2 linked regions of the Homo sapiens genome follow. The protein of the gene in region 2 purifies or fractionates together with the protein of the main gene of each other region. This does not show direct contact. Each region holds a gene or a part of one and is shown on either strand. Other genes may lie near its edges.

The links. The genes of interacting proteins can lie anywhere in the genome.
Region 1: the proteins of CIMAP2 (region 2) and MMADHC purify together in Homo sapiens (affinity purification with mass spectrometry; one large-scale study listed by BioGRID and IntAct). This does not show direct contact.

What each region holds. Positions count from the first base shown.
Region 1 is NC_000002.12:149,577,776-149,581,275, forward strand, and holds part of MMADHC (cobalamin trafficking protein CblD), read right to left. Parts: intron 1,874-3,500; coding exon 1,656-1,873; intron 1-1,655. UniProt on the Homo sapiens protein: Involved in cobalamin metabolism and trafficking. Plays a role in regulating the biosynthesis and the proportion of two coenzymes, methylcob(III)alamin (MeCbl) and 5'-deoxyadenosylcobalamin (AdoCbl). Promotes oxidation of cob(II)alamin bound to MMACHC.
Region 2 is NC_000001.11:54,816,063-54,819,562, reverse strand, and holds part of CIMAP2 (ciliary microtubule-associated protein 2), read right to left. Parts: intron 2,575-3,500; coding exon 2,441-2,574; intron 1-2,440.

The DNA.
Region 1 (3,500 bases), on a different chromosome or scaffold from region 2:
TTGGGAGGCCAAGGCGGCCAGATCACAAGGTCAGGTGATCGAGACCATCCTAGCCAACATGGTGAAACCCCACCTCTACTAAAAATACAAAAATCAGCTGGGTGTGGTGGTGCACGCCTGTAATCTCAGCTACTCGGGAGGCTGAGGCAGGAGAATCACTTAAACTAGGGAGTTGCAGGTTGCAGTGAGCCAAGATCGCACCACTGCACTCTAGCCTGGTGACAGAGCAAGACTTCATCTCAAAACAAACAAACCAAACAACAACAACAACAACAAAGAAACAGGAGCTTAGAAAGGTTAAGTAATTTCCTCGAGGTCACAAAATTAAGTAAGTTGCAGAGTCAATCTTTGAACCCAGATTTATTCTATCTTCATTGTGTGTCATGCTACAATGACTCTAAAAATCCAGGTAAGACAAAGAGGCCTTGAACTCTGGCAAAGAATTGAAAGGACACTAATATTTTAGGAGCAACTTGAGAGATAAAAGCGATGTGATTTTTATATTATTTATAGTGATATGATGGAGAAAGAAGGTTGGTGCTATAAGTTTTATCTTACGAGAGAGGGGAGGATGGTTATTCCACTAATAGTATTGGTTATACAGGAGTTAGGACAGGTTTTTAAGGAAAAAAAGATTACTTCAGTATTAGACACACAAAATCTGGGGACTTGTGAGACATCCAAACAAAGATGGTTCAGTAGGCATATAGAAATATAGAACTGGAAATGTCAGAAATAGAAATACTGAATTAGAAATTATAAAAACATAGACTGTGGAGGCGGCCAAGGGATTAAGTGACCAAGGGGTGATTCAAATGAGAAGGTGTAGGACAGAAACTTATGGGAAATGTAATTTAGTTGGTAGACAGGAAGAACAAGGAGCCAAGAAGGCTGAGAAGGAATTATCTGAGATAAAAATATAGGACAGGTCAACTGTGTCTCAGTGTCATGTCATCTAACATAACTCAAATGTAAGGAATTGGTGCTGCTTATAATATGGCTTTGATAAAAAAAAACTCAGCCTAAAACTATGCAAAAATATGAAAAATGATAACCATCAGGGGTTTGACAGAAACCCTGAATTGCATGTAGCTTTCCACTTAAATAAATAATCATAAATGCAAGTTTAAAATGTTTAAAAATGAAAAAAAAAAACCCAAACAAACCTTAATAAATTGTTTAAGAAAAAATAAACTTATGAAACTGGTTCCTTTTTTTTTTTTTTACTATATCTGAACAATTTCAGAGATCTCAAATTTTTCTTAAGCTTTTAAATGGCTAGAGGAATACAGAACCAGTTGGAATTAGATCCATATACAAATTTAATTGCCATTTATTAAAAATGAAAAACAGGGAACCTAAATTTCCAGTCTACAGATGTAATTACATTATGTATATCTAGAGTAGTTACTTAAAAACATACTTTTCAAGAAATATTTTAAAAATATTATAATCTACAGTAAAAAAATTATATAGCAAACACTTTGTAGAGGACAATGCCAAGTTTTCCAAAGCTATATATGCTGTTTTTGTATATACATGTACTGGAATTAAATTGATTTTTTACTTTTTCAACAAAAGTAATATGCTTATAATAATCAAGTCATATAGCATTAATAATCAGGAAAGCACAATAAATGTTACCAACAATTTACCTGAAATTCATTCACATATTGTGCCATCACAAACTCATGTCTTTCACTTGATAAAGGTTCTGCTAGAACATCAGGCAAAGTTTTATGAACCAGGCTTTTCTTCTGTGAAGCAGTCCCATTGAGGTGACAATCAAAACCTATGTTCCCAGGAAGCTGGAACCTCTGATCTTGAGGTCCAAAGGGTCCCATAGTTTCATCAGGCCACACTGTTCGAGAGCCTGAAGAGAAACAACAAAAGGAACAGTTTCTCCTTAATAGTCAAGTATATTGGTAGACTGAAAGAATGCTCTTCTTAAAATTATGTATATTTTTATCTAAAAGATCTTCAAAATCTGCTTTCCCATGTGAATATAAATAGTTTCCTATTGTTTCCAAAACACTAATCAAAGCAACTGATTGACAGATCACAGGCAAGTCCGTTATTAGGGGAAAGACTGAATAAAATACTCTAATCCATACTAAGAAATGCTTGAATGTCATTAAAAAGAAGACAATAAACCTTTACATACTGACACTGAATGAAATCCAGGATACAATGCGTTAAAAGAAAAAGCTAAGTCAAAGAACAGCATGTATAATAACATTTATTTACATCCCCATATTCACGTATTGTTTTGTTTTTGAGACGGGTCTCTTGCAGTACAGTGGTGTGATCGCAGCTCACTGAAGCCTTGACCTCTGAGGTCCACCTCAGCCTCCCAAGTAGCTGGGATCACTGGTGCACACCACTATGCCCAGCTAATTTTGTTTATTTTTGGTAGACACAAGGTCTCCTCCTCCCTCAGCCTCCCAAAGTGCTGGGATTACAGTCATGAGCCACTGTGCCAGGCCCATGTTTTTAAGTAAAGAGAAGATCTAAAATGAAACTTAGTAATGGTCGTCTGGGGAGGGGCATTCTGCTGCTGTTATCTGGTGGCACAAAATACGAACGGGAAAAAAAATCATGCATCACATGACCTAATGCTCTGTTTACCAGCCACATGAGTTAATATGGATTGCAAATATAGAACAGACCACATTACTTTATTCACTTAAAACTTTAAAAAAAATCCTAACTTATAAAAAATTCAGAAAGATTCAGAAAAGAATAAAGTAGAAAATTAAACTAATAATTACTCAGAGTAGAGATCTGGGCTTAGAGAAACAGAGGGACAACTGCTATGCATATTACTTAGCAATAAAAATAGATATTTAAAAATATCCTGTCAGAGAACTAAGTAACTGAGAATGGCCATGTCAGCATGGCTGTCTCATTCCTGGATCATGAGCCACCATATCCCTCTTCCACACTTAGGACATACATCACCCATCAATCATGGAACCATTTCCTGCTGAACCCAGACAACGTCTCAAGATTCTCAACATAAACACTCTAGTCCAGTGCCCCTCAAACTCTAAAGATGTACTTAAGATACATCTGGGATCTAGTTTAAATGCAGATTCTGATTTAATAGGTCTGGAGTGGGGCTCAAGATTTTGTATTTCTAACAAGCTCCTAAATGATACTGATGCAGATCATGTTGAATAACAAGGCTCTATCTAGACAGCCACTAATGACTACTCAAGTCACTTCCCAAGAGAAAACCTGTTAGCTATTTTTGAACAAGATGGTTTTTAAAAGTCTAACAATCCCTAGATTCTCTTTACAGAAAACAAGCATCCCATATTAATAGTAGATTTGGGCAGTGGATTTGACCATATGTTTACTGGTCATTTTAGGTTTTGTTTTCTGTGAAAGGCCTATTCATGTCCTTTTGTTTTCTGATTTTCTGTTGGGTTATCTTTTCCTATTGATCTATTATAAATTCTTTATATATTCCAGATACTAACATCTTATATAATTTG
Region 2 (3,500 bases):
TCTGTCTCTACAAAAATAAAAATTAAAAAGTAGCCAGTCATGGTGGCACGCACCTATAGTTGCAGCTACATGGGAGACCAAGGTGAGGATTGCTTTGGCTCAGGAGTTCTAGGCTGCCGTGAGCTATGATTGTGCCACTACACTCCCACCTGGGTAACAGAATGAGATCCCATCTAGACATGACCTCCTGCTGACTCCTCACCCAGCCAGCAGTAGACTGGAGGTTTGGTTTGTGGATAGATTCCAGGGGGCTAGGAGGAGGTGCACAGTGGAATGTAGGCAGACAGGTCCCACAATGAGAAGAGAGGGGGTAGGAGGCAGTCCATACGCTGAATGAGACAGCCCAGTCTCCTTCCTCTGATCGCCAACAACCACACTTACCCCCACCCAGGACAGAGGATTGTTTTCTAGAGAAGCTGAATAGTCCCACAGAAAACACCTAGAGACACTGGCATTTGAGGGTCTCAACAGAAAGACCAGGGCCCCTGCCAATCACTCACAGTGACTGACAGGCCCCAACCAGACTCACAGTATTATTTAGTGCTTTCCTCTTCAGTATGAACAAACAAGCAAAAGAAAAAAAGGAACTTGGAAGAATTGGAGACAACACAGGGGGCAAAAGAACTTCAGGAAAACTTAATTAACATCTTTAGATAAAAGAACATACTGCAGCCAGCCGCAGTGGCTCACACCTGTAATCCCAGCACGTTGGGAGGCTGAGACAGGCAGATTGCTTGAGCTCAGGAGTTCAAGACCAGCCTGGGCAACATGACAAAACCTGGCCTCTACAAAAAATAACAAAAATTAGCCGGGTGTGGTGGTGCATGCTTGTAATCCCAGCTACTTTGGAGGGTGAGGCAGGAGGATCGCTTGTGCCTGGGAGGCAGAGGTTGCAGTGAGCCAAGATTGCATCACTGTGCTCCAGGCTGGGCGTCAGAGTGAGACCTCATCTTAAAAGAAAAAAAAAGAACATACTGCACACTGCATACATGACACAGAACTGGGTGCTATTAAAAGAAGAAAGAAAAGAGCAATCCACAGCAAAAGAACTCTTGGAAACTAAAAAATATGATAGCCAAAATTTTTAAAATAATAGTAGGGTAGATAAGGACAAGAAAATTTTACCAGAAAGTAGAACAGAAAGGTAAGATGGAAAATAAGAAAGAAGAGAGAGAGAGAAAAAAAAAGAAAACTAGAGTGCCAAACCAGGGCATCTAACATTCATCTAAAAGAGATATCTGAAAGGCAGCAGACAGAACACAGAGGAGAGGAAATCGTCAAAGACAAAACTCAGAAGATTCTCTCAGAATAGAAGGTGCTGAGTCTCCAGATGGAGGGAAGCCACTAAGTACCCAGCACAAAGGATGAAACAGACCCATGCCAAGATGCATCAGAACAGGAAGTACAAAGAGAAGATCCTGAAAGCTTCCAGGAAGGAAATGCAGGTCACATACACAGCACAGAAAACCAGAAAGGTATAAGACTTCTCAGCAACCATATTTGAAGCTAGGAGGCTATGAAAGGCCTTCAAAATTCAGAGGGAAAATTATATCCAACCTAGAATTTTATTTCCAACCAAACTATTGATCAGATGTGCAGAAAGGAAAAATAAGAAACATTTTCAGGCATACATTCTATCAAAAATCTTTCCTTCCTCAGCCCTTTCTCAGGAACCCACCAGAACAAGGGGGTAAGTTGAGAAGGAGGAAGACACAGCACTACTTTGATAAAAAATAAAATATTCTTTAAAATTACATTTAAAAGCTGATTTCTCCTGAGAAATCTGGTCCTCAGAATCTGGTCCTCATGTCCTCACCATAATTTCAAAAAAAAAAAAATACTGGATTATAAAGTGCATGTTTGTCAACATTGTAACATTTCTGAAATTGTTACTATATTACAATGGATGGCCTCTTAGGTCAATCAAATATGGCAGCAGCTAACATTTACAAGCTGTTGTATAGTTTGCCACAGTATTTAATGTACCTTTCCCTTCTTAGGCTTTGCAACCTTCTGAAATGAGTTTTACCAACCCCATTATGAACACCAAGAAACAGATTCCACGTGGTGAAGCCACTGAGAGCCGAGACTGGACCGTATGGGCTCTGGGTGGCAGATTTAAGGTTGATTGAGTACCTTTTCCTTACCAAGGGTTTTCAACAGATCATTTCATTTGGGTCTCCTCAAACATCTGCTCTTTTGACAGCTGAAGGAAATGAGGCTCAGCGAAGTTACGCAGCATGCCCCACCTCACACTTACAGTAAGTGGCAGAGCCAGGATCTGAACGTGAACGTCCCTCCACTGCCTCTGCTGTTTGGCTGGCATTAGGGGCAGAAGCTGTGTTCCCATGGGAACCAAACATGGGGAACCACCAGCCCACCCCAGAGTAAGACCCCCCACCGCCCTCGCCCCTTCGCCTGCAGCTCCAGCTGCACTCACTGCATGAGCATGTCCCGGGCCAGGTCTGAGAGGTAGCGTTTGGATCCACTCAGGAATAGGGATCGATATCGCTGCCGCCTGTCCTTTGTCTCCATCAGCCAGGTGTTGAGGTAGCGGCCCACACCTACTGGGTTCTGCAACAGGGAGAGGATGGCAGGACATTAGCAAGCCTGGCTTGGAGACTGTGTCTCGGCTTCCTCTCCTCCCCTTGGACGCTTCCCTACTCCATCTGTTATGAGTTGAATTGTGTCTCCCAAAAAGATATGTTGAGGTCCCAACCCCGAGCAACCCCAGTATCTCAAAATGTGACCTTATTTGGAAAAAAGGTTGCTACAGACATAATTAGTTAAGATTAAGTCATACTGCAGTAAGGTGGGCCCTTCTTCCAATGTGACTGGTGTCCTTTTAAGAAGAGATACACAGGAAGACAGCCATGCCAGGAGACAGGCTGGAGTGACGACTACAAGCCAAGGAACATCAAGGATTGCTGGCCACCACCAGAAGCTACAAAGAGGCAAGGACAGATTCTTCTCAACAGGTTTCAGAGGGAGCACGGACCTGCAGACGCCTTGATTTCAGACTTCTCGCCTCCAGAACTGTCAGAGAATATTTCTGTTGCTTTAAGCCACCTAGTTTGTGGCAGCCCTAGGAAGGGAATACAGCATCCCACCCAGATATCGGGGTCACAGATCCTAGAGGCACCAACAGAGAGGTTGAGAAAGGAGATGCAACTTGCCCAAGGTAACACGGCAAGGGCAGAATAAAGGCAGGACAAGAACCCGGCCATCTGCAGAGAAGCAGTCCTGAGGGGTGGGCTGGGGAGATGTTAGGACCCAGAAGCTGGTCCCATGCTAAACAGAAGTTGCCTCCCACAAGGGAGAAGCCTGTTTCATGAGGCACCCAGGTTTTGGAGGTGCCAGCAGAGGGGCTCTCCCGCCCTGTGGGGTGCGGTCAGCTGAGCCACCAGAACCCGGACCTCACATCAGCCCTTCCCACTTCACAGTGGCTGGCTCTGTGGTAGCAGTAGGGTCATCTGGCTCTGGTCTAAACATTTCATTTG